Linked DNA regions of Homo sapiens. The protein of the gene in region 1 interacts with the protein of each later gene in a pairwise test. Each region holds a gene or a part of one and is shown in the gene's direction. Other genes may lie near its edges. The genes, in order: MS4A1, THAP4, ACKR2 and RNF19B.

Region 1 (7,030 bases):
AGATATATATATGAAAGATAGTTTCCATAAGAAATAAAAAAACAGAGAAAGCACTCATGTGTTTCTTTATAAACTACTATTTTATACAAATATTTGTTTAAGGTTTGTAGAAGTATAGTTGCCACCATGAGATACCATTTTAACAGAGAAATATCACACACACACACACACAGCCCTCATGGTCATTATTGCCATTAGTTACAACAGGCATAGCCCAAGTAGAATTGGCTTACAAAAAAGTTTATCTCGCCAATAATACAGACACAGCTTTAATCAAGCAGTTGATGAATAAAATGAAATTAAAACAATGGCAGTCCAATCATCTCCTTCAGTTCAAACAATTGATGACCTTTGCATTTTAAGTTATCTTCACTAAAGTTACCCCTCTGGGGCGGAGTGTAGTGACTCCCAGCTCATTCCATACTTGCCATAGGACCTTGGGAAAAATAACCTCTCTCAACCTCCATTTCTTCATCTGCAGAAAGTAGTCAAAATGCCTACTTACGAAGGTGTTGAGTGAGTTGGCAATACCATATACAATATCTCTAGTATATAGTAGGTGCTCAGTAAACAACTATAATTATCTGGACTCACCTATGGTACAGCAGAAAAAGCATCAACATCAGAGCCATGGTGAGTGCCTTCTAGCTTGGCTCTGTTGCTAACTGTGAGGTCTTTACTAAGGCAAATTCTATACCCAGACTGCAGCTTCCTCATTTGTGAAATGAACAGAATGGTTTCTGAGGTTTGGACTAGCTCTAGAAATCCTACCTAGTGACCAGAATCAGTCCGCAAACTCTTTAGTGGGCTATATTAAAATATCTGTTTTTGTTAGAGGTCTTGTAGAGTGGCTTGTTGTACAAAGCAGATCCCCAGGACCATGTGGCATCTGGCTATCTAGGGCAGGGGCAAAATCAAGTGAGAAACAACCAAAGTTTCTTCTCTCTTTCCTCTAGCCCATGCGCCAGACAGATAATACTTTTCAACTGATTTATAGTCATTCACATAGTGCATATATTGGAAGGAGAAAAGAGGGGTCATAAGGGAAAGGCTGAATTCCTATTTCTCACAGGAGACAAAGCAGCCTGGTACCCTGGATGCCTAATTTGAGAGATCCAAGTCTTCATTTTAAATCTTTACAGGCTGGGCATGGTGGCTCACAGCTGTTATCCTAGCACTTTGGGAGGTGGAGGGGGGCAGATTGCTTGAGTCCAGGAGTTCAAGACCAGCCTGGGCAACATGGCAAGACCCCATCTCTAAAAAAAATATAAAAATTAGCTGAGTATGGTGGTGGTTGCCCGTGGTCCCAGCTACTCCAGTGGCTGAGGCAGAAGGATCACCTGAGCCCAGGAGGTAGAGGCTGCAGTGAGCTGTGATCATGACACTGCACTGCAGCCTGGGCGACAGAGCGAGGCCCTGTCATGAAAACAAACAAACAAACAAAAAATATTTACTAATTATGTAACTTGGCACAAGTAACCTAGCTTCTCCGTGCCCTTGTTTCCTCTTCTATAAAACACAGGTGATGATTCACCCCTTGCCTGTTCTATAAGGCTCAGATGAGATGCCATGTGTCAAATTTACTTCCAGCCCTAAAGTAGGTATAAATGTGACAGTAGTCAGCTGCCTGTTTTACAGCACACCTGCAGCTACTCAGCTCTGATTGACTTCAGTAAGATATACTTCAGGCTGTGGTCTAATGGCTGGGATGTGGCACCGGCTTCAGTAAGATATGTGACCTGGATAGACAGTCTTGATTTCCAAGACATCTTACATGACTTACAAGCAATAAAGACAAGAGCAAAGATGTGTCCCCAAAAGAGGGATTTTCAGATTCCAGGAAAGACCCAGTGGAGTCCGCATAAGTGGTTAACATGAACAAGTGAATGCTAAGGAAACCCAAGATGAAGATTGAACAGAATCTTAAAATGTCTGAGCTGGAAAGGGCCGTATTAATTGCCTTCTCACTTCAGAAATGAATAAATCATGAAAACTGATAAATAGCATTTACTACACTCTCCCTTTGTCCTAGGCACAATTACATATGTTAACTTATTTATGTCTTACATCTCAGAGAGGGGTACTGTTCTAACTTTACAGAAGGATAAAATCGAAACTAATGCTCAGCAAAGTACAAAGAACAAGAATAGCAACAAAAATAACTATTTATTCCAACATGGGTTCTTTGCATACATTTATTTCTTCAATAATATTTATTAAGAAGTAACTAAATCCAAAAATTATTTTAGATCCTGAACAAGAGAGAACAAAATCTCTACTTTGATGGAACTTCCATTCTGTGGGGAAGAGACTGACAATAAGCAATTAAATAAATAAGGTAATTTCCTACAGTGATCAATGCCGTAAAGCAATTAAGATAGGATTTTGTAAAAGACAGCAAATAGGAGTACATGTTATAGATTGAGGGTTCAAGGTAGGCTCCTCTAGGAGCTGACATTTGAGCTACACCTGAACAAAAAGACACTAGCCATGCACAGACCATGAGCCCAGTTAAGTGTTATAGCAGCCCACGAGATAAGAATTATTATTATTTCAATTTTACAGTTGAACCTGAGGCCCAGAGAATTTAAAGAACTTGCCCAACATCTCAGAACAAATGGAGGAATCACTATTGAAACCTAGGCAATCTGACTCAGGAGGCCACAGTCTTATATACTGCATTAGAAAGCCTTAGAGAGCCTTTTCTTTTTCTTTGAGACCGAGTCTCACTCTGTTACCCAGGCTGGAATGCAGTGGCATGATCTCAGCTCACTGCAACCTCTGCCTCCTGGGTTCAAGCAATTCTCCTGCCTTAGCCTCCCGAGTAGCTGGGATTACAGGTGCACACCAACATGCCTGGCTAATTTTTGTATTTGTAGTAGAGATGGGGTTTTGCCACGTTAGCCAGCCCGGTCTCAAACTCCTGACCTCAGGTGATCTGCCCATCTTGGCCTCCCAAAGTGCTTGGATTACAGGCATGAGCCACCGTGCCCGACCTAGAGAGCCTTCTTGATGTGACTTGCACAAGGTGGCAGAGTTAGAGACAGAGAGAGGCCTGGAATCGACCCCTCCTGCTTCTACAGATAGTCCTTACCATACTCTGCAATGTTGCCTCTGGCCCATCATAATGCACAAAGGCAGATAAGCAAAAGGACAAGGACAAGTCCATTGAAAATACATTTTTCAATATTAAAGCAAAAGAAAAGCATCCAGGAATAAGAAACAAAGAGGACATGCAGTCATATATGCAAGGTGTCCTCTACAAAGATAAAGAATGCCCCAAACCCAGTTGTCAAGATCACTGGCAGGGACTCCTGGGCCCACATGCTCTTCCTAAACAACCCCTCCATCTCCTTTCTCAGAACTCAGCAGTAGGCCTTGCCTCAGATCCAAGGTCACTCGGAAGAGGCCATGTCTACCCTCAATGACACTCATGGAGGAAATGCTGAGAGAAGCATTCAGATGCATGACACAAGGTAAGACTGCCAAAAATCTTGTTCTTGCTCTCCTCATTTTGTTATTTGTTTTATTTTTAGGAGTTTTGAGAGCAAAATGACAACACCCAGAAATTCAGTAAATGGGACTTTCCCGGCAGAGCCAATGAAAGGCCCTATTGCTATGCAATCTGGTCCAAAACCACTCTTCAGGAGGATGTCTTCACTGGTGGGCCCCACGCAAAGCTTCTTCATGAGGGAATCTAAGACTTTGGGGGTAAGTCAGTTGCCTTCCATCCCATGTCGTAGGGATTCTCTGGCTGACAGAAGCTGATGCGGTATAGGCCACATACAGAATTCAATCCAATTTGAAGAATTGGGATCCAACCTGATGTCTTCTTTATGTCTAACACAGTGGGCCAAATCAGGGGTGCATCAGAGAAGTTATCACTTAGATCACCTCTGGGTGATCTTATGTCACCTTTTGGTTTTGGGGCTTGTATATGCAGGGGTCCCCCATCCCAGTCCATTGCCAGAATCCCAGGCATACCTGCTCCCTGGAAATGCCCCATGTGGTTGAGGAAACAGATTCGAACAAGAAAAAGACAAAATTCTTGGCACCTCCACTGCTTCCTTTAGGCATTCCTCACAGCTCCAAGTCAGGAGCCAGAGCTTCCAACCTTGTCTTTGCCTGCTAGCAGTGATGATTTCAGCTCATCCACTGCTGCCTCTGTTCTCTCCCCAGGCTGTCCAGATTATGAATGGGCTCTTCCACATTGCCCTGGGGGGTCTTCTGATGATCCCAGCAGGGATCTATGCACCCATCTGTGTGACTGTGTGGTACCCTCTCTGGGGAGGCATTATGGTGAGTAAAAGAATAGCAGCCATTTGGGAAATGGTGCAGACAAAAATGTTAAAAGGCTCCACAGGGATATGCCAGATTATTTCTGTGTTGAGGGAAATATATGAGTAGGAAATATTATTGGGTTAAAGTAATTAAGAAGACAGGTTGACCAAATTGAGTATAAATCCCATGGTTGAGAGTCAGTGGTCCTGTTTCATGTGAATTCAGAGAAAGGGGCCCTGCATGGATCTCACAGGGACTGTCCAAAGCAAGAACTCTCCAAAGTCAGTTCTGGTGGGGAGGGTGGCCCTAGACATTTAGACTAGATAGCAAGATGTTTTGGAAAGCAAGAGGCAGCAGGAACATCCACTTCCATCTACCCCTTCTTGCTTACAATTCTGTTTGGTTACTATGGTACCTGGTGAAACCTGTCCCATCACAAGTCAGTCTCATTTTGCTTATCGACAGAGCAGCACTCTTTTGGCTGTTTTACGTACATGTTTTCCAAATCTGTAACCCTGTCTGGGTGTGGCACATAGGACAGTGATGTTTATTTCCCCGTGATACTTTTCATAGTTGCCACTATAAAAGATAAGTCCAGGATTAAAATTTTCCAAACAAGTAGAGATGGGTTAGAACAAGAGTTTCCTCCATTCTACAGCCTGAATGTGAGAAAAGGAAGATGAGCAATAGTCATCATCACTTCCTGTAACAGCCAATGTTTTCATGGAGTGCCTGTGCCATTCAGGTCAAGTATTTCCTTCTGCATCAGTTCACTCTTCAGAGGGCATCAGAGTCATTTATGTCACTGTGAACCCCAAAGGGCAGTTCCACAAGTTAAAAACAAAGAAAAACTAGAAATAAAACTTTTAAATTTATGGTATGAGTATTAATTGATGAGGAAATTTGAGTTCTGTCTCTTTGGTCTTACTATATTCCTAGTCACAGATCCCCAGATGATTGAGTAAAAGGCATGAATTTAGTGTCACTGAGCCTGAATAAAGGAGGAATATGACAGCTGAAAAATGAATACAACTGATAAAAATGGGTGGATGGTTGTGTGAAAGTTGCTGAAAGTGTAGGCTTCTTTCTGACCAGTTATCAATGTTAAAAAGTGATCTCCCTCTCTCCTCTATCTCCTGTCTTGCCCACCCCCTCTCCATCTCCCCCACCTCTCTTTTTTACAGTATATTATTTCCGGATCACTCCTGGCAGCAACGGAGAAAAACTCCAGGAAGTGTTTGGCAAGTAACCATATGTCCTTCTTTCCCACATGTCAGAGAAGTACCTATTTTTTTCGGTTAAAAACTGAGACCCTTAAAAAGCCAAGGTATCACAGCCTCTCAGCCCTAAAAAGCAAAGACCCTCCACAATGTTATTGTGATTTTATTTATGAAAAACTTAGAAGCGAGGTCTATCTGAAGTATGTTCATGGGAACAGAACTAAAAGCAGATCCATGAAAACCATACCTACAGTCTTAAGAACGTTAAATGCTGTGTGAAAATAATAGACCTTTCTGAAAGCCCTATCATTTCTCCCAGATCACCATTTAGGAAAATTATCTGATCAATGTCATGATTGATTCAAATTCTAGCTAAGCCATTTTTTGGCCGTAACATTGAACAAGTCAGTTTACCTCTATGTTCCTGAGTTTTCACCTAGAAAGGAAGGGTAACAGTCCTTGCTACCATGTGACGTCCAATGGAGATGAAAGGCAGTAGAGTGTGTGATGGTGCTTCACAGGCTATAAAGTACTACACTGTGGTCTTGCCCATAAAACCCCTAGGGACTCATCTAGATCCAGAGGAAACTGGCCTGCAGAGCTGCTGATGCTGTATGGATGAAAAGAGTTTAGCAGCAAGTTCGCTCCCAAAAAATTCCTCCCCCAACACTGTTACTAAACTGTGTCACTTTCATAATCAATGAGGGAATGGGTGGATTGAGATGGTTCCTGTCTTAAAGTGGCCTGACACACTCAGTTTGGGGGGAAAACTTTTTATGAACATCAAATTATTCTCTAGATACAGCCAGATTTACTGACTTGCCATGTGTAGGTCATAGAGCCAGGAATGAAATATGCGCAGCATAAAATAATAATCAATAATCCCATATCATTATGGTACTTGTTATTTATATTTTCCTGTTTCAACCTTTTATCATCCCTGCAAGGTAGAACATTCACACTGATATTTTCTTACCTATGCTACCCAAAGACATCAGCCCTAATTGTATTTTGGAAGATAGCTGACTGGGGCTGATTGCAACCTATGTCAGCAGGAATAGATGTTGTTACTGTTGTTGCTTCTGCTTTTTTTATTTCCATTTATTTGATAGTACAGATCTAGAGGGTTCTATCTGAACCTTCCCAACCTATACTTCATAATACCATCCCACTAAAGTGTGATACAAGAAACTTCTTCACTCTCTTCCCTCTACCTATTTATGAAGGCAGATAATAAACTGGATAATATTTATCTTCACTTATTCAACAAACATTTATTGAGTGCCTACTAGGATGGTGGCAGTGGCAGTGAAGGAAATGCAAGGATACAAGATATAGAATCAAGGGTTACTCTTAGAATTTTTGCTTTATAAAACAGATGGATGGTGAATGAGATAGGGAAGACTGAGAAAAGAACAGGATAGAGACATGATTTTATTTTATAGTGACAAAGAGGCTAAAAACAACTGAGAGAACTTCAGTATATTTAGTTGTAGTTGCTTTGTGAGTCAGGGCAGTTGCATTTGGAA
Region 2 (7,030 bases), on another chromosome or scaffold:
GTGGGTGGCTCTGGACCTAGCTTTGCAGCCTGGGCTGCCACCGGTGACCTGCGAGCTTGAGCATCTTTTCACGTCGTTGCTGGGTCATCCTCCAGCGAGGTGCCTGTTCAGGTCTGGTGACCATTTCCACTGTGCCTTTTCTGGCTGACATGTCAGAGTTCTTTATATGATTTGAATAAAGCTCTGTTAGCTAAATGTGTTGCAAATAGCTTTTTCGGTCTGTGATTATCTTTTGAGTTTTACAAATTGTTTTTGAAGAACAGAGGTTCTGGATTTTATGTGGTTCAGTTTGCCAATCTCTTCCTTTATGGATTCTGTTTTTAATGTCTTAGTTAAGCAGTCTTTCCTCACTAACAGGTCAAAATATGTATTCTGAATTTTTCTGGAAGCTTCACAGTTCAACCTAAAATCTTTCCTTTAGGTCATTAATCCACCTGGGGCTGAGTTGTGTGTATAGTGTGAAGTGCTGTCCCCTCTCCTTGTTCTCAGATGAGGGCCAGCTACCCTGCACCCTGCATGAAGAGCCCGGCCCCCCTGTTCACCCATGCAACTGCCCCCTGAGCCCCTCAGTATCCTTCATCAGGGGTCTGCTTCTCACCCTCTCTCTGGTTCCAGGTGGTCTGTTTGTCAGTCCCTGTGCCAATACCACACTGTCTTCATTATCATGGCTTCTACTTTTTAAAAATCACCTCTATTGAGGTATACTTTATATGGAATAAATGCATACACTTCAAGTGTGCAGTTTGATACATTTGGACAAGCATATATAATCTTGTAACGCTGCGCCAGTCAAGACTGAGAACAGTCCCAGCACCCTAGAAAGTCCCCGTGCTCCACAGGCAACCCCCGCTGCCCTCTCAAGCCCCCGGCCTGGTTTCTGCCACTGTAGACCGAGCAGCTCTGAGTGTCCTAGTGCCCATGATCATCAGCCGAGCAGTTCTGAGTGTCCTAGTGCCCATCATCATCAGCCGAGCAGCTCTGAGTGTCCTAGTGCCCATCATCGTCAGCCGGGCAGTTCTGAGTGTCCTAGTGCCCATCATCGTCAGCCTGGCAGTTCTGTCTGTCCTAGTGCCCATCATCATCAGCCGAGCAGCTCTGAGTGTCCTAGTGCCCATCATCGTCAGCCGGGCAGTTCTGTGTGTCCTAGTGCCCATTATTGTCAGCCGAGCAGCTCTGAGTGTCCTAGTGCCCATCATCGTCAGCCGAGCAGCTCTGTGTGTCCTAGTGCCCATCATCGTCAGCCGGGCAGTTCTGTGTGTCCTAGTGCCCATCATCGTCAGCCGGGCAGTTCTGTGTGTCCTAGTGCCCATTATCGTCAGCCGGGCAGCTCTGCGTGTCCTAGTGCCCATTATCATCAGCCGAGCAGCTCTGAGTGTCCTAGTGCCCCTCATCATCAGCCGGGCAGTTCTGAGTGTCCTAGTGCCCATGATCATCAGCCAAGCAGTTCTGTGTGTCCTAGTGCCCATCATCATCAGCCGAGCAGCTCTGAGTGTCCTAGTGCCCATCATCGTCAGCCGGGCAGCTCTGCGTGTCCTAGTGCCCATCATCATCAGCCGAGCAGCTCTGAGTGTCCTAGTGCCCCTCATCATCAGCCGGGCAGTTCTGAGTGTCCTAGTGCCCATCATCAGCCGAGCAGCTCTGTGTGTCCTAGTGCCCATTATCATCAGCCGAGCAGCTCTGAGTGTCCTAGTGCCCATTATCATCAGCCGAGCAGCTCTGCGTGTCCTAGTGCCCATTATCATCAGCCGAGCAGCTCTGAGTGTCCTAGTGCCCCTCATCATCAGCCGGGCAGTTCTGAGTGTCCTAGTGCCCATCATCATCAGCCGGGCAGCTCTGAGTGTCCTAGTGCCCCTCATCATCAGCCGGGCAGCTCTGAGTGTCCTAGTGCCCATTATCATCAGCCGAGCAGCTCTGAGTGTCCTAGTGCCCATTATCATCAGCCGAGCAGCTCTGTGTGTCCTAGTGCCCATTATCATCAGCCGGGCAGCTGAGTGTCCTAGTGCCCATTATCATCAGCCGAGCAGCTCTGAGTGTCCTAGTGCCCATCATCGTCAGCCGAGCAGCTCTGCGTGTCCTAGTGCCCATCATCGTCAGCCGAGCAGCTCTGCGTGTCCTAGTGCCCGTCATCGTCAGCCGAGCAGCTCTGAGTGTCCTAGTGCCCATCATCGTCAGCCGAGCAGCTCTGAGTGTCCTAGTGCCCATCATTATCATCAGTGGAGTCACAGCACACAACTCATTTGTTTCCGGTCTCCTTTCCTCACTGAAACGCTCTCAAGATTCAGCAGTTCTGCTGCATGTGCCACGTCTGCTTGTTGCTGTGTGGTGGTCCACCAGTGAGCTTGTCAGTTTTGTTTATCCTTTCTGTTGATGGATGTTTATTTTATTTGTTTCCAGTTCCGGGCTATTAGGAATAAAGCTGTAAGCATGTGTAGACCTAACTTTGTGTGGACACATGTTTTTTTTCCTCTTGGGTGCATACCTGGGATTGGAACTGCTGGGTTCTGTGGTAAGCACCAATCTCTTCCAGAGTGGCTGTCCCCCTTGACACCCCAGCAAGGTTGTCCCACAGCCTCGCCAAGGGTTGGCCTTTGAGTTTTATCCTGGCCACTACAGGGTGGTATTTTATTGTGATGTTAATTTGCACTTCCCTGCTGAGTAACGATGCTGCTCATCTTTTTGTTGTACTTATTTGCCACTTGTATTTCTTGTTTTGTGAAATGAACATTCAGATTTTTTGCCCATTTGTTTAAGTGTTTGTGTTATTCCTGAGTTGTAAGAGCCTGTTGTTTGTTCTGGGTATAAGTCCTTTATCAGGTGTACTTGCCAACACGATATTCCTATCCTGTGCCTTGCCTTTCTGTTTCCTAGACAGTACCATTTGAAGAACCAAATGTTGTTTTTTTTGGTGGGGGTGGGGGGTTTCTTTTCTTTTTCTTTTTTTTTTTTGAGACATTGTTTGCTCTCGTTGCCCAGGCTGGAATGCAATGGCCTGATCTCAGCTCACTGCAACCTCTACCTCCCAGATTCAAGCGATTATCCTCTCTCAGCCTCCCAAGTAGCTCGGATTACAGGCTCCCACCACCATGGCCGGCTAATTTTTTGTATTTTTAGTAAAGACGGGGTTTCACCATGTTGGCCAGGCCGGTCTCGACCTGACGTCAGGTGATCCACCCTCGTTGGTCTCCCAAAGCGCTGAGATGACAGGCGTGAGCCACCATGCGCAGTCTAGAACCAAATGTTTTAATTCTGTTACCATTTTTTTTCTCTAGTCAGTGCTTTTTGTGTCCTGTCTTAAAATTTTTCACCTAGCCCAGGCAGCAAAGATTTTCACCTGCATTTTCTTCAAGAAGTTTTATAGTTTTAAGATATATGCTATTTGGAATTGCTATTTCTAGATGGTATGAGGTAGTAGTCACGTTTTTTCCATTTTTCCTCATACAGATACCTCGTTTCCAGCACCATTTGTTGAAAAGAGAACCCTTAATTTATTAAAGTATGCAGTGCTTTTGTCGAAAATCAACTCACTTTGTGTGTGTGGTTCTTCCCCAGGACTCTCTCTTCTGTCCCACTCTTCTCTGTTTCGGTCTTTATACTGTTACCATGCTGTCTTGATCATTGTAGCTTTATATTGAATCAGGTGATAGAAGTTACCCAACTTTTCTTCTTTTTCTTTTTTCCAAAATTGTTTTGGCTATCCTAGGACCCTTTGCATTTCCTTATGAATTTCAGAATCAGCTTGTCAGTTTCTAGAAACATTTTCATTGGAACTACTTGAATTTCTAAATTAATTTGGGAAGAAGTGCCATCTTAGGCAAACTGAGTCCTCCAATCCAGTGCCATGGTAAGGTGCTCCATTTATTTAGATCAGTCTCATCCTATATTTTCTTGTAGTTTTCAACGTATTGGTTTTGCACACATTTTGTTAAATTTATTCCTACATATTTTGTGGTTTGGGATGCTATTATAAATGATTTTTTAATTTTCCACTTATTTGTTGCAAGTATATAGAAGTACAATTAGCTGTTGTATATTGATCTCGTATCATGTGACTTTGTTAAATTCATTCATTTCTGTAGTTTGTTTCTTTATTTTTCTTCTTTTCCTTCCCTCCCTCCCTCCCTCCCTTCCTTCCTTCCTTCTTTTCTCTCCTTTTTACTTTTTTCTTTCAATAAAAACAAGGTATTCTGTGTTGCCCAGGCTGGAGTAGAGTGGCTATTCTCTAGTGATTTTTTTCTTTTTTTTTGAGATGGAGTTTCTCTCTTGTTGCCCAGGCTGGAGTGCAGTGGCGCAATCTTGGCTCACTGCAACCCCCACCTCGCCAGTTCAAGTGATTCTCCTGTCTCAGCCTCCCGAGTAGCTGGGATTAAAGGCATGTGCCACCACACCCGGCTAATTTTGTAGTGATTTTTTTTTTCTTTGAACAGGGTTATTTAGAGATATGTTACTTATTTTCCAAATAATTGAGAATTTTTTAAATAGATTCTATTGCTCAGGATTTTTCATTCAATTCTATAAGGCCCAGACAACATACCCTCTAATATTTTAGTCTGTTAAAAAATGTTGGAGACTTATTTTACGCCCCAGTATATGGCCTAACTTCATGAATATTTCATGTACACTTAACGAATGTAGCATTCAATAGTTATAAAAGTCCCCTCCACAAGCTGGAAACCCTGGGATGCCAGTGTCATGGCTCAGTCCAAGTCCAAAGGCTTCAGAACCAGGGAAGTCAGTGGTGTCACTCTTGGTCCTGGGCCAAAGGTCTCAGAGCCCTGAGGAGAGAGGAGGTGCTGGTGACATCTGGGAGTCCAAAGGTCGGGGGGCCTGGAGGTGTCCAAGGACGGGGGAGGAAGAGTGTATCCCAGCTCCAGCAAACAGATGGACATATTCGCCTTATCTTTGTTTTTATTTTATCTGGGCCCCCAGCCTATTAGATGGTGCCCACCCTCATGGAGGGTAGATCTTCCTCACCTGGTCAGTCACCTCTGGAAACATCTTCTCAGACATACTCAAAATAATCCTTTACCGGGTTTCTAGGTGTTCCTTAATCGGTCACCTTTGACCTTTGACACCTAAAATTAACCATGACACCCACACCCACCTCTGGCTGCTTTCAAGTTTCTATTTTCTTGCCTTTGATTATCAGCCAAAGTTTTGCTGTGATATAATTAGAATTTGTGGCTTGATATATTTTGTTAGGCTCAGAAAATTGGCCATGATCTTTTCAAATATTGCTTGTGTTCTGTTGTCTTTCCTATCTTCTTCTGGGTCTCTGGTTACACATGTGTTCAGTCTTTTGCAATTTTCAATGTGTCCCTTATGCTTTCATCCATATTTTCCATTATTCTCTAAGCTTCAATGTGGATATTTCCTACTGATCATTTTCCATTTTACTAATCCTTTCTTCATCTGTGTCTAATTTGTCTATTTCATTATTGGGGCCTTAATTTGAGTTATTATGTTTTTCAGTTGTAGAATTTATATTTTAATCTTTTTGATAAATTCTGATTACCTGCAGAAATTCTCCATATTGTCTTCTAATAACTCCAGTATTGGTATCCCCTGGGTGAGGGTGGGGGAGGTGTCTATTTCCTGTTTTTTCTTTTGATCTTATCTCCTAGTAACCTAAGGAGTTTTTCTTTTTTTCTTGGATTCTAGACAATATGTGTGAAAAATTGTAGAGATGACTTGAGGCTTCCTTTGATGTTATCCTCACCAAAGAGCAGTTCTGTGCTTCTGCCTGTTGGTCAAGGATGGACAGCTCGTGTTCAGTAGAGGCTGAGCTGGTTTGAAACCGGACTTCCCAGCCTGTTTCTGGTTAACTCTTACTCCTGGGATGGGACCCTTCAGGGACCCCACCCAAAGCTGGGGTGCTTTTTTTTTTTTTTTTTTTTTTCCTCTTCAGATGGAGTCTCGCTCTGTTGCTCAGGCTGGAGTGCAGTGGCGCGATCTTGGCTCACTGCAAGCTCCGCCTCCTGGGTTCACGCCATTCTCCTGCCTCAGCCTCCTGAGTAGCTGGGACTACAGGCACCCGCCACCACACCCGGCTAATTTTTTTTGTATTTTTAGTAGAGACGGGGTTTCACCCTGTTAGCCAGGATGGTCTCGATCTCCTTACCTCGTGATCCGCCCGCCTCGGCCTCCCAAAGTGCTGGGATTACAGGCGTGAACCACCGTGCCCAACCTCAGGGTGCTTTTTTTCTTTCTTTTTCTTTTTCTTTTTTTTTTCTTTTTTTTTTTTTTTTTGAGAAGGAGTCTTGCTCTGTCACCCAGGCTGAAGTGCAGTGGCATGATCTCGGCTCACTGCAACCTCCACCTCTTGGGTTCAAGCAATTCTGCTGCCTCAACTTCCCGAGTAGCTGGGACTACATGTGCATACCACCATGCCCGGCTGCGCCTCTCCTCCTAGATGGACACTGAATTCCAGTGTTTGTCCCTCCAGCTCCATGAGTCTGAGAAGGCCCCACTTAGCTTCTCAGCCTCTTAGCTACCACATCCCTCTCAGCCTCCACCCCTTGAACCCCTTGACTTCCGGGCAGCAAAAGCATCGGGGCCAGTTGCTCCAAATTGGGTCTCACCTCCACACTTCCTTCTCTTTGGGGTGCTGGTCCTCGCTGACTTGGTGGTTCTCTGACACCTTTAAAGAAACTTCTTAAAACCTGGGTTGTTATCTGCAGGAGGGTTGGTCAGTTACAGAGTAGTCAGCCATGGCCATAAGCAGAACTCCGTTTCATCCACTTCTGGTGCCCCCCACCCCACATGACCCCCCACACATCTGGGGCACTAGAGAGATAGTGCCCATCAGAGAATTGTCTTTTGACAGTGGTCACTCTCACAATTTGCCGGCAAACATTCTGGGCATATAGGGCTGACTCATTCGGGACTTAGCTGCCATAGGCTTGGATTCTTGTTGGAAACAGCTGCTATAATTTATTCTGATGAATTACTGTTCCAAAGATGGTATTTCTGAGCTTTCCAAGAACACACTGGACATCAGTTCTAGTTACAGTGAAAGTGGGAGGCAGTGGAG
Region 3 (6,372 bases), on another chromosome or scaffold:
AAAGAGGAGCTGGTACCATTCCTTGTGAAACTATTCTAAACAATAGAAAAAAGAGGGAATCCTCTTTAACTCATTTTATGAGGCCAGCATCATCCTGATACCAAAACCTGGCAAAGACACAACAAAAAAAGAAAATTTCAGGCCAATATCCCTGATGAACATCGATGCAAAAATCCTCAATAAAATGCTGGCAAACCAAATCAAGCAGCACATCAAAAAGCTTATCTACCACCATCAAGTCGGCCTCATCCCTGGGATGCAAGGTTGGTTCAACATACACAAATCAATAAATGTAATCCAGCACATAAACAGAACCAATGACAAAAACCACATTATTTTCTCAATAGATGCAGAAAAGGCCTTCGATAAAATTCAACACCCCTTCATGCTAAAAACTCAATAAACTAGGTACTGATGGAACATATCTCAAAATAATAAGAGCTATTGGTGACAAACCCACAGCCAATATCATACTGAATGGGCAGAATCTGGAAGCATTCCCTTTGAAAACCGGCACAAGACAAGGATGCCCTCTCTCACCACTCCTGTTCAACATAGTATTGGAAGTTCTGGCCAGGGCAATCAGGCAAAGAGAAAGAAATAAAGCGTATTCGAATAGGAAGAGAGGAAGTCAAATTGTCTCTGTTTGCAGATGACATGATTGTATATTTAGAAAACCCCATCGCCTCAGCCCAAAATCTCCTTAAGCTGATAAGCAACTTCAGCAAAGTCTCAGAATACAAAATCAATGTGCAAAAATCAAAAGCATTCCTATACAACAGTAACAGACAGAGAGCTAAATAATGAGTGAACTCCCATTCACAAATGCTACAAAGAGAATAAAATACCTAAGAATACAACTTACAAGGGATGTGAAGAACCTCTTCAAGGAGAACTACAAACCACTGCTCAAGGAAATAAGAGAAGACACAAACAAATAGAAAAACATTCCACGCTCATGGATAGGAAAAATGAATATCGTGAAAATGGCCATACTGCCCAAAGTGATTTATAGATTCAATGCTATCCCCATCAAGCTACCACTGACTTTATTCACAGACTTAGAAAAAACTACTTTAAATTTTATATGGAACCAAAAAGAGCCCATATAGCCAAGACAATCCTAAGCAAAAAGAAAAAAGCTGGAGGCATCACGCTACCTGACTTCAAACTATACTACAAGTCTACAGTAACGAAAACAGCATGGTACTGCTACCAAAACAGATATATAAACAAATGGAACAGAACAGAGGCCTCAGAAATAACATCACAGGTCTACAACCATCTGATCTTTGACAAACCTGACAAAAACAAGCAATGGGGAAAGGATTCTCTATCTAATAAATGGTGTTGGGAAAACTGGCTAGCCATATGCAAAGAACTGAAACTGGACCCATTCCTTACACCTTATACAAAAATAAACTCAAGGTGGATTAAAGACCTAAACATAAGACCTAAAATCGTAAAACCCTAGAAGAAAGCTAGGCAATACCATTCAGGACATAGGCATTGGCAAAGACTTCATGACTAAAACACCAAAAGCAATGGCAACAAAAGCCAAAATTGACAAATGGGATCTAATTAAACTAAAGAGCTTCTGCACAGCAAAATAAACTATCATCAGAGTGAACAGACAACCTATAGAATGGGAGAAATTTTTGCAATCTATCCATCTGACAAAGGGCTAATATCCAGAATCTACAAAGAACTTAAACAAATTTACAAGAAGAAAACAACCCCATCAAAAAGTGGGTGAAGGATATGAACAGATACTTCTCAAAAGAAGACATTTATGCAGTCAACAAACATATGAAAAAAAAGCTCATCATCACTGGGCATTAGAGAAATGCAAATAAAAACCACAATGAGATGAGATACCATCTAACCCCAGTTAGAATGATGATCATTAAAAAGTCAGGATAAAACAGATGCTTGAGAGGATGTGGAGAAATAGGAATGCTTTTACACTGTTGGTGGGAGTGTAAATTAGTTCAACCATTGTGGAAGACAGTGTGGTGATTCCTCAAGGATCTAGAACCAGAAATACCATTTGACCCAGAAATCCCATTACTGGGTATATACCCAAAGGATTATTAATCATTCTACTATAAAGACACATGCACACATATGCTTATTGCAGCACTGTTCACAATAGCAAAGACTTGGAGCCAACCCAAATGCCCATCAATGATAGACTGGATAAAGAAAATGTAGCACATACACAGCATGGAATACTATGCAGCCATAAAATGGATGAGTTCATGTCCTTTGCAGGGACATGGATGAAGCTGGAAGCCATCATTCTCAGCAAACTAACATAAGAACAGAAAACAAAACACTGCATGTTCTCACTCATAAGTGGGAGTTGAACAATGATAACACATGGACACAGGGAGGGGAACATCACACATCTGGGCCTGTTGGGGGATTGGGGGCTAGGGGAGGGATAACATTAGAAGAAATACCTAATGTAAATGACAGATTGATGGGTGCAGCAAACCACCATGGTATGTATATACCTATGTAACAAACCTGCACGTTTTGTACATGTATCCCAGAACTTAAAGTATAATAAACAAAATTTTTTAAAAAAGCCCCACTGAAGCTAAGCTGTCATTAAAGAAATTATAAACCATACATGAGGAAGGGTCAGGAGACACATTAAATAGATGAATTGATATCCCTAAAGAATAAAGAAGAATTTGAAAGACACTATAGGTCTTTTTAAATGAAGAAACAAAACCATAATGAAATAATTAAATACTCTGAGAACACCTGAAGGTTAGTCACTTATCCAAGAGTAAGTGTCCCAGAGTAAGTGGGATTCAGTTATAAGACAAAGGTGAGGGGATATCTTGGTGACATAACTATTAAGTGGTGCAGATGGCTCCCTAAGCTTTTGCTCTTACTTGCTGGACTGCAGGTACTGATGTAGATTTGAAGAGTCTATTGGACATCCCAGGGCAGCAGCAAAAGTGGGTTTAGAGAAAGGTAGAGAATGCTAGGTCTCACCATATTTTCCCCCCGCAGCACTACAGGACGTCGGGACTGGGCATTTCCTTCCAACATGGCCGCCACTGCCTCTCCGCAGCCACTCGCCACTGAGGATGCCGATTCTGAGAATAGCAGCTTCTATTACTATGACTACCTGGATGAAGTGGCCTTCATGCTCTGCAGGAAGGATGCAGTGGTGTCCTTTGGCAAAGTCTTCCTCCCAGTCTTCTATAGCCTGATTTTTGTGTTGGGCCTCAGCGGGAACCTCCTTCTTCTCATGGTCTTGCTCCGTTACGTGCCTCGCAGGCGGATGGTTGAGATCTATCTGCTGAATCTGGCCATCTCCAACCTTCTGTTTCTGGTGACACTGCCCTTCTGGGGCATCTCCGTGGCCTGGCATTGGGTCTTCGGGAGTTTCTTGTGCAAGATGGTGAGCACTCTTTATACTATTAACTTTTACAGTGGCATCTTTTTCATTAGCTGCATGAGCCTGGACAAGTACCTGGAGATCGTTCATGCTCAGCCCTACCACAGGCTGAGGACCCGGGCCAAGAGCCTGCTCCTTGCTACCATAGTATGGGCTGTGTCCCTGGCCGTCTCCATCCCTGATATGGTCTTTGTACAGACACATGAAAATCCCAAGGGTGTGTGGAACTGCCACGCAGATTTCGGCGGGCATGGGACCATTTGGAAGCTCTTCCTCCGCTTCCAGCAGAACCTCCTAGGGTTTCTCCTTCCACTCCTTGCCATGATCTTCTTCTACTCCCGTATTGGTTGTGTCTTGGTGAGGCTGAGGCCCGCAGGCCAGGGCCGGGCTTTAAAAATAGCTGCAGCCTTGGTGGTGGCCTTCTTCGTGCTATGGTTCCCATACAATCTCACCTTGTTTCTGCATACGCTGTTGGACCTGCAAGTATTCGGGAACTGTGAGGTCAGCCAGCATCTAGACTACGCACTCCAGGTAACAGAGAGCATCGCCTTCCTTCACTGCTGCTTTTCCCCCATCCTGTATGCCTTCTCCAGTCACCGCTTCCGCCAGTACCTGAAGGCTTTCCTGGCTGCCGTGCTTGGATGGCACCTGGCACCTGGCACTGCCCAGGCCTCATTATCCAGCTGTTCTGAGAGCAGCATACTTACTGCCCAAGAGGAAATGACTGGCATGAATGACCTTGGAGAGAGGCAGTCTGAGAACTACCCTAACAAGGAGGATGTGGGGAATAAATCAGCCTGAGTGACCAAATTTTGGTCTGGTGGGAACAGATGGGAACCAGCTCAATTGGGTGTCCACTCAAAGTGCTCTCTCCAGGGGCCTCAGTGACTGTGTTGCTAAACCCAGTGGTCAGTTCTCAGTTCTCAGCCATCAGCAGCATTTGCTCGCCCCGCCTTCTTCCTCCACTTTCTTCACTTGCTTCCAGGATACCACGCTTTCTTTTCTGAATTGCTACAATCTTTCTTCCTTCCTTCCTTGCTTCCTTCCTTCCTTCCTTCCCTCTCTCCCTCCCTCCCTCCCTCGCTTCTTCCCTTCCTCCTTTCCTCCCTTCCTACTTTCCTTCCTTCCTTCTGACAGGGTCTTGCTCTATTGCTCTGTCACCCAGGCTGGAATGCAGTGGCGAGATCTCCGCTCACTGTAGCCTCCTCCCCCTGGGTTGAAGCAATTCTCATGCCTCAGCCTCCCAAGTAGCCAGGACTATAGGCACCTGCCACCATGCCTGGCTAATTTTTGTATTTTTTTTCTTTCTTTCTTTCTTTTCTTTTTTTTTTTTTTTTGAGACGGAGTCTCACTCTTGTTGCCCAGGCTGGACAACAATGGCGCGATCTCGGCTCACTGCAACCTCCACCTCCCGGATTCAAGCGATTCTCCTGCCTCAGCCTCCTGAGTAGCTGGAACTACATGCGCGTGCCACCACGCACAGCTAATTTTTATAATTTTAGTAGAGATGGGGTTTCACTGCGTTGGCCAGGATGATCTCGATCTCTTGACCTTGGGATCCACCCGCCTTGGCCTCCCAAAGTGCTGGGATTACAGGTGTGAGCCACCATGCCTGGCCCTAATTTTTGTGTTTTTATTAGAAACAGAGTTTCACCATGTTGGCCAGGCTGGAGAATTGCTGTAATAGTTTTCCAACTGGCCCCTGTCCTTCCTCTCTCTTGCTCTCCTCCCATCTCATCTGCACCTAGCAGCCAGAGTGATCCTGATACTCTCGGCCTTTACTTCCGCCTCCCTCAGAGCAGCAGCCTGTCAAAACACCAGATTACAACAAATTTAGTTTAAAGGTCTCAATTAGCGTTATTGGCAATTCTAGAATCAGGCAACAGACTCATTGAATCAGGAACAGATTCACTCCATAAAATACAGAGAGTGCTGCAATGAGCTGGGTAGAAGAGGTTAGTTTTATAGACAGGAAGGGGCTGTCAAAGGCAGAAAGAAATGAAGAACAAAAAAAAAGATTGATTTTTTTTTTTTTGAGACAGGATCTCACTCTGTCATCCAGGCTGAAGTCCAATCCCACAATCATGGCTCACTGCAGCCACCACCTCCTGAGCTCAAGTGATCCTCCCATCTAAGCCCCCAAGTAGCTAGGACTACAGGAGCACACCACCACACCTGGCTAATTTTTGTATTTTTTGTGGAGACAGGGTCTCAGTATGTTACCCAGGTTGGACTGGAAACCCTTGGCTCAAGCAATTTGCCTGCCTCAGCCTCCCAAAGTGCTGGGATTACAGGCGTGAGCCACTGCACAGGGCCAGATTCATCATTTCAAAGTTACTTTCTATATGCGGCCGGAACAGGGTGGTTGACATCAGTTTTCTTCAGGTTACTTTTTAATAATGATTAAAACGGGGAACTTCATTATCATGAGCATGGTTACTGTCTGCATTATTACGCCAACTGAAACTGTCATGTTTGGGAATTTGGCTGTTAACTCTGTCTCCAGGAGTCTCAAAGGTCAGATAACAACTTAGTTTTGGTTTGAGGACATGGAACTTTAATACGACAGATTCCATTTTGGTTTGGTCTGGTCAGCTGGGACCTAGTGCAGGAGGTTAGTCCAAAACAATGGCCTTCCATAGTTTTTACTTAACAAGCCCAACTCCTTACGGTAATCCTTTAAGGCCTATGTGATCTGCCCTCACCCTGGCTACACTCTTTGCCCTTATGTCCACCAGCCTCCAGTGCTCCAGACACAACTGATCTCAAATACTCCTGACACATCCCCCTGGGGATTCCTCTTCCTGGATTGCTCTCCTCTCAGCTGTCTGCTTGGCTCACTCTCTCACCTTCTGAGGTCTTAGCTCAGATACCACCTTTCACTCACCTGTCCAACCTATTTAACACAAACTGGCCCATCTCTGACGCTCCTGATCTTCCTGATGCTCTAT
Region 4 (7,030 bases), on another chromosome or scaffold:
CATCAATAAAAATGCACAGAAAATAATTTTCAAGCTTGGTGACAACTCTCAACTATTTGGAAGTTATTAAAAAATTAGGCCATTTCTTATTTTAGCCAAGTATTATGTTAGTATCCTCCAGATTTTATTTTTTTAATTAGTTAGAAGAATGATAATCATATATATAGTTATATATATAAACAATGTATTTTTTTATATGTGTCATCTACGGACTTAAGGTGGAGTTTGGGGAAAGAAGAAAGCTGGCCTCTCAATACCTGTGTGCCAGGTATATATAATTTAATTCGATACAACCTTGTGAGATAGGTTTAGGTTTGATATAGTTTTATAAATGAGGAAACTAAAGTTTAAGGAAATTGAATGACTTGTTCAGGGTCATATAACTAGTAAGTGGTGGAACCAGGCTTAGAACAGGGGTCTTAATTCCAACCAATGCCAATATTCCTTCCATTCAGCCCCTGTTTTAAAAAGCATTTGCTTGTCAACATAGCCGCATTATTGAGGATGCTGCTGCTTGGGTGCATTTCATTAAGTGTAGCCTGAGGACAACATGGAGAAAGCCAAAGATACTAGAGTCTAGTTTCCTTTCTGATTCCTGTTGTTAACAGCCTCCTACCTACGTTATTTTTCTTATCTGAAATAGGTCTAATTCTTTCCTGACTTGAGAGGTTTAATTAATGTTTACACGGTGTTTTGAGATCTTCAGTTGAAAGTGGTTATAGGGAGTAACTTTAAAATTCTGTTAGTTGCCAAATAGATGCCTGAGTTCTCCCTTGGGATGTGCCTAGTGGCTTTGCATCTCTTTTTTTTTGAGACAGCGTCTCGCTCTGTCACCCAAGCTGGAGTGCAGCAGTGGTGCAATCACGGCTCACTGCAGCCTCAATCTCCTGGGCTCAGGCGATCCTCCTGCCTCAGCATCTCAAGTAGCTGGGAACACGGGTGCATGCCACCAAGCCCAGCTAATTATTATTATTAATATTATTATTATTATTTGTAGAGATAGGGTCTCCCTGTGTTGCCCAGGCTGGTCTCGAACTCCTGGGCTCAAGCTGTTTTCCCGCCTTGGCCTCCCAAAGTGCTGGGATTATTGCTGCCTCTTTTTAATGCCAGGAAAAAAAATAGCTTCTGTGTTCTTACTGGATGTCATGGTTCCCTTGTTTTGTTTTGAACAGTGTTGTTTTGTTTTGTTTTAGAGACAGAGTCTCACTCTGTGCCCAGGCTGGAGTGCAGTGGCATGATCATGGCTTACTACAACCTTGAACTCCTTGACTAAAGCAGTACTCCCACCTCAGCCTCCTGAGTAACTGGGATTATAGGCACGAACCACTGCACACTGCTCCTTTGTTTTATTTTTTTAAACAAATCGTTCTATTCTTCTGGGGCTGGTAGAGGTCATTGATAAACACTAGAAGAGAAGTCCAAGTCCCAGTTACCTCCTATTCCCATACCTGACCATCTTTACTGCCCACAGATAAAGTTCTTGCCAGCCAAATTGATCAGGTCTCCCCTCTGCCTTGTTTGTATGTGCATTTGGTAGGGTGAGGGGGGCATGTGAGCAATCTTACAGGTTCTGATCATTAGTTTTACTATAATTACTCATAATAACAAGAACACCATACATTCAGAGATTCATGATTTGTTTACAGAATATTTGTAGGATAGAGCAAAGAGTTTTGGATTTTTCTTCTCTTACACTCAAATATGGTTTTATTTTATTCATAAATAAGGGAACCAATTTCAGTGGGAAAACATTCACATTATAATTTTTTTTTTTTTGAGACGGAGTCTCGCTCTGTCACCCAGGCTGGAGTGCAGTGGCACCATCTCTGCTCAGTGCAAGCTCTGCCTGCCGGGTTCACGCCATTCTCCTGCCTCAGCCTCCTGAGTAGCTGGGACCACAGGCGCCCACCACCACGCCTGGTTAATTTTTTTTTTTTTTTTTTTTGTATTTTTAGTAGAGACGGGGTTTCACCGTGTTAGCTAGGATGGTCTCGATCTCCTGACCTCGTGATCTGCCCACCTCGGCCTCCCAAAGTGCTGGGATTACAGGCGTGAGCCACTGTGCCCGGCCTCACATTATTATTTAATATACTAAGAACAATATGGCCTAGTATAATCTTAAAACAAGCTGTCAAATGAGATAAAATTAGTTCAAAATACAAATAACTGATTTTTTATAGTTCTTTATAGTCTTCAGACTATAATCTCATTCAGACATAATTTCATTTTAGTCTCATCCAGGTGGATATTGGCGTGCATTTTATAAAGGAGAAACCAGTTCAGAGAAGTTTAAACATGGGGCCTAGTGTTTCATTGCTAATAATTGGTACAATTGATCTTTTACGCTTTTGAGTCTCTGCCCAAGTATGTCTTTTCAGAAACCCCGAAGTCAGGTAACTGTAATGTTTTCCTCTCAAGTATCCTGTTGCTAATCTTAAAACCCTTTCAGAATCTCTAGGAGACTGACGGGTGAGCAAAGTAGGCAACAGAAAATTTCCTGGTGTACAGGGGCAGATCTTCTGTACAGATGAATAAGAAGGGATAAGGCTGTCTTGACCTAAATTCTTTGTGCAGGTCCACCACTCCAGCCTTTCATTGCTGCCTCTGTCCTCTGCAGAATCCTTCCTCCCACCTGATCCCAGGAAACAGTATCAGCTATTGGCCTTCCCAGACAACTAGACTGGACCATCCCATAAACAGGAAGCTTTTTTCATCCCTAGCACATTTATGAGGGAAGATCAAGCAAGCTCTTTGAGCAAGACAAATTTCAGTCAGTGAAGGAGGATTTTTGCTTTCTGAAGCCTCCCTGAACCTCTTCTCTTGATTTGGCTCCATACCTCCTGTTCCACAACTTTTCCCTGCATTCCCCAACTCCACACCACCCCCTCCTCTTGTGCACGTACACCAACCTCCATCCCAATACATCTGTCTCAGATTTGCCAAAGTACTTGTACTAAAGGAGAACATCTGTATCACTCCCCTGCCTAAGACTATTCATTGACTACCTAACCTATAAGATGAGTTCTTATTATGTCTTTGAGAACTTATTTGATCTACCCTTATCATTTAAGCTCCTTTACAGTTTCCAACCATCTTTTTTTTTTTTTTAGATGGAGTCTCGCTCTGTTGCCCAGGCAGGCTGGAGTGCAGTGGTGCAATCTCGGCTCACTGCAAGCTCCACCTCCCGGGTTCATGCTATTCTCCTGCCTCAGCCTCCTGAGTAGCTGGGACTACAGGCACCTGCAACCATGCCTGGCTAATTTTTTGTATTTTTAGCAGAGACGGGGTTTTACCGTGTTAGCCAGGATGGTCTCGATCTCCTGACCTCGTGATCCACCCATCTCAGCCTCCCAAAGTGCTGGGATTACAGGCGTGAGCCACCACGCCCGGCCATCTCCAACCATCTTTTGATTTTATTTTCTATTTTTCACTCACATCACTATTTCCTAAGGTATGTTATAGGCATTACTTGAAAGAAAAATGTTTTGTGAGGAAATAAGCTTGGAAAATACTGAGTTAAACAAAATAAAACAAGTTTATGAGTTTCTTAAATCTTTAAACATGCTAATATGCTAATATGTAGTATAAATCTTCAATATAATGTAATTTCCCCAATTTAGATCACCAGGAAACAGGTTTTTGTTTTTTCTGTAGCATCTTTAAGGCTTAACTCAAACTTTCCCTAAACTCCTTTAATAGTTACCATGCTGGCCTGCCTTTGGTTAGTGTCCTTATTTAACCATAAACCTTATGCTCTGAATAGATTGAGAGCTCATGTCTCTAGACTAGGATATCTATATTCCAACCATTTCTACAACTCTGTGTACAAAGTCTTTCAATTAGGCTCTAGAAGAGTGTGGTACATAGATGAATTTTGATGAAAAAGATAAGAAATATGAGCAGCATAGTTCTCAGAGGAAGAATAGAGATGAAAGAGATAAGCAAGAATAGTATAGACAGGTGATCATTCAATTCAACAGACAACTTTTTTTTGAGATGGAGTCTCGCTTTGTCGCCCAGGCTGGAGTGCAGTTGTGCCATCTCAGCTCACTGCAACCTCTGCCTCTCGGGTTCAAGCGATTCTTCTGCCTCAGCCTCCCAAGTATCTGGGATTACAGGCATGTGCCACAATGTCCAGCTAATGTTTGTATTTTTAGTAGAAACAGGGTTTCACCATGTTGGCCAGGCTGGGCTTGAATTCCTGACTTCAAGCGAGCCACCCGCCTCACCCTCCCAAAGTGCTGGGATTACAGGTGTGAGCCACCACACCTGGCTTCAACAGATACTTTCAGAATGATACACTGTTGAACCCTGGGTGAGTACTGGGTATTTCAAAAAGAACTTAGACATGGTTTTCTTGATAGGAAGTTTCACCTGGTAGAGGAGACAGATAATTGATACATAGATAGATAGAAAATTATTCAAATGTCATATGATAAATACTAAAGAAAATACGGGTGCTCTTAGATAGATGAAAGAACAATAGAATTTGCATGATGGTTTCAAGAAAGACTTCACAGAGGAGCAGGCATGGTGGTGTGCACCTGTGGTCCCAGCTGCTTAGGAGGCTGAGGTGGGAGGATTAGTTGAGCCCAGGAGTTCGAGACCAGCCTGGGTAATAGCAAGACCCCATACCTGGGAAATGACTAGAGATCAACCTGAAAACGTGGACTGGATTCAGGTTGATAGGCCTGTGTAAGCCATGGAAATAAGTTTTGGGTTGAAGCACTTTTTTTCTTTTTTCTTTTTCTTTGAAGGATTTTAAGCAAAAGAGTAACCTTCCAGAATGGAATTTGGATGGAGTGGGGAATAGGGAGAGCAGATAAGGAGGCTCTTGGAGTTGTCTAGCCTAGAGATGGGTCTTAAATAGGGCAGGAAAAATGAAGATGTTAAGGGTACAGTTCATTGTGACAAGTTGGCGCATGTCTACCACCCTGATGCCTACTAGGGGTCTATTTGTAAATGGGTAGCCTAGTTATGTTACATGACTTGGGGATGGAAAGTACAGACATAATATAGGAACACATTTCTTTAACCACTGAAGTCTATTGGAGCATAATCAAATTTATACTAATGGAAATCTCTTTCCAGGGCTGAAGCTAAGTAATGCTGTGGTCTAGCTTGTCACTTTATGAAGTTTCTGAAGATTTAGGAAATTAATAAAATGAGTAAAAGTTGTATGAACTTAAGCAGCAGGGGCTGGGGTGGGCGGTCTGTAGTCTTTTTCTTTTTTATTATTTTTTATTTTTTTGAGATAGGGTTTAACTCTGTAACTCTGTTGCCCGTGCTGGAGTGCAGTGGTGCAATTTCAGCTCACTAGAACCTCAACCTCCCAGGCTCAGGTGATCCTCCCACCTCAGCCTCCTAAGTAGCTGGGACTGCAGGCATGTGCCACCACACGCCACCGCGCCCCACCACACTCGGCTAATTTTTGTTGTTGTTGTTATTTGAAGAGAGAGTCTCACTCTGTCACCCAGGCTGGAGTGCAGTGGTGCAATCTCGGCTCACAGCAACCTCTGCCTCCTGGATTCAAGTGATTCTCCTGCCTCAGCCTCCCGAGTAGCTGGGAGTAGCTGGGACTACAAGTGCACGCCACCATGCCCAGCTAATTTTTTTGTATTTTTAGTAGAGAGGGGTTTTGTCAGGTTGGCCAGGCTGGTCTCGAACTCCTGACCTCAGGTGATCCACCCACCTCAGCCTCCCAAAGTGCTGGGATTACAGGCATGAGCCACCATGCCCGGCCTAATTTTTGTGTCTTTCGTAGAGATGGGATTTCACCATGTTGCCCTGGCTGGTCTTGAACTCTTGGGTTCAAGTGATCCTCCTGCCTTTGCCTGACAAAGTTCTGGGGTTATGGGCATGAGCCACTGCACCCAGCTGTGTCTGTATTCTTCACAGCATGTAATTTTCTACACCTTTCTTTTAGCTTCTGATTAGCAAGCCTGACTGATTGGTTAAGCTAAAAGAGCAGAGTAGGAGAGATGCACCAGCATGGGACGTGGAAGAGAAGGAACAAAGTGGACAGGGCAGATTGGGTTTCAAGGATGAGGTATTTTCTTTTCTTTTTTTTTTTTTTTTGAGACAGGGTTTAGCTCTGTCTCCCAGGCTGGAGTGCAGTGGCACGATCTTGGCTCACTGCAGCCTCCACCTCCCGGGCTGTAGCCGTCCTCCCACCTCAGCCTCCTGAGTAGCTGGGACTACAGGCATGCACTACAGGCATGCACCACCACGCCTAGCTAATTTTTGTATTTTTTTTTTTTGTAGAGATGGGGTTTTGCCATGTTGCCCAGACTGGTCTCGAACTCCTGAGCTCAAGCAATCCACCCACCTTGGCTTCCCAAAGTGCTGGGATTACAGGTGTGATCCACCATGCCCAGGCGAGGTTTTTTTTTTCCAACTATTCGGGAAGAAGATTACCGTATTCAGAACTTAGGGGTTTACCACTAAAGTGGGTTTATATGAAATTTTAGGATTAGGTTATAGTACCTGGCATATAATAAGCCAATAGATACATGGATACATTGAAAAGATTGCTTTAGAGCAGAGTGATGGCCTAGGAGAAGACCTAGAATGTCCTAGGGAAGGTCAAACAACCAAAACAAGAGAGGGTCTCTGTCATTCATGCAACACAGGTATTTTGAGCATGAACCAGTATACTAGACTGAGATTAAAAAGTGGATGATATGTCTCCTTAAGTCCAGTGTGGTTTGGAAGGCAAGCATATAAACAGTTAGTTACATTATAATGTAAGTGTTATAAAATAATTGTGCACACCCACGAAGTAGGCAACGAGCTGCCTAGAGAGGTTAAGTATATTTTACAGAGAAAATGACACCTGAGTTGGTTCTTAAATGGGTACTTGTCAGGGCAAGAAGTAAGGACAAGACATTTCTAGGTAGAAGGAATAGAGTATGTAAAAGCCAGAAAGTAGGACAGAGTGTACGATGTTTTTACGCCATATATCTTTGAGGACAAGGTCTCACATGCAGTTTTAGAACGTGTTTAGCTACGTTTGAATGTGACAAGTACC

What was found.
Region 2: the proteins of MS4A1 (region 1) and THAP4 interact in binary tests that used the Homo sapiens proteins (3 or more experiments, as listed by UniProt).
Region 3: the proteins of MS4A1 (region 1) and ACKR2 interact in binary tests that used the Homo sapiens proteins (3 or more experiments, as listed by UniProt).
Region 4: the proteins of MS4A1 (region 1) and RNF19B interact in binary tests that used the Homo sapiens proteins (3 or more experiments, as listed by UniProt).

What each region holds. Positions count from the first base shown.
Region 1 is NC_000011.10:60,458,823-60,465,852, forward strand, and holds part of MS4A1 (B-lymphocyte antigen CD20), read left to right. Parts: intron 1-2,249; 5' UTR 2,250-2,338; intron 2,339-3,362; 5' UTR 3,363-3,552; coding exon 3,553-3,711; intron 3,712-4,179; coding exon 4,180-4,299; intron 4,300-5,465; coding exon 5,466-5,522; intron 5,523-7,030. UniProt on the Homo sapiens protein: B-lymphocyte-specific membrane protein that plays a role in the regulation of cellular calcium influx necessary for the development, differentiation, and activation of B-lymphocytes.
Region 2 is NC_000002.12:241,585,129-241,592,158, reverse strand, and holds part of THAP4 (peroxynitrite isomerase THAP4), read left to right. Parts: intron 1-7,030. UniProt on the Homo sapiens protein: Heme-binding protein able to scavenge peroxynitrite and to protect free L-tyrosine against peroxynitrite-mediated nitration, by acting as a peroxynitrite isomerase that converts peroxynitrite to nitrate.
Region 3 is NC_000003.12:42,861,436-42,867,807, forward strand, and holds the end of ACKR2 (atypical chemokine receptor 2), read left to right. Parts: intron 1-3,030; 5' UTR 3,031-3,067; coding exon 3,068-4,222; 3' UTR 4,223-5,851; downstream 5,852-6,372.
Region 4 is NC_000001.11:32,954,797-32,961,826, reverse strand, and holds part of RNF19B (E3 ubiquitin-protein ligase RNF19B), read left to right. Parts: intron 1-7,030.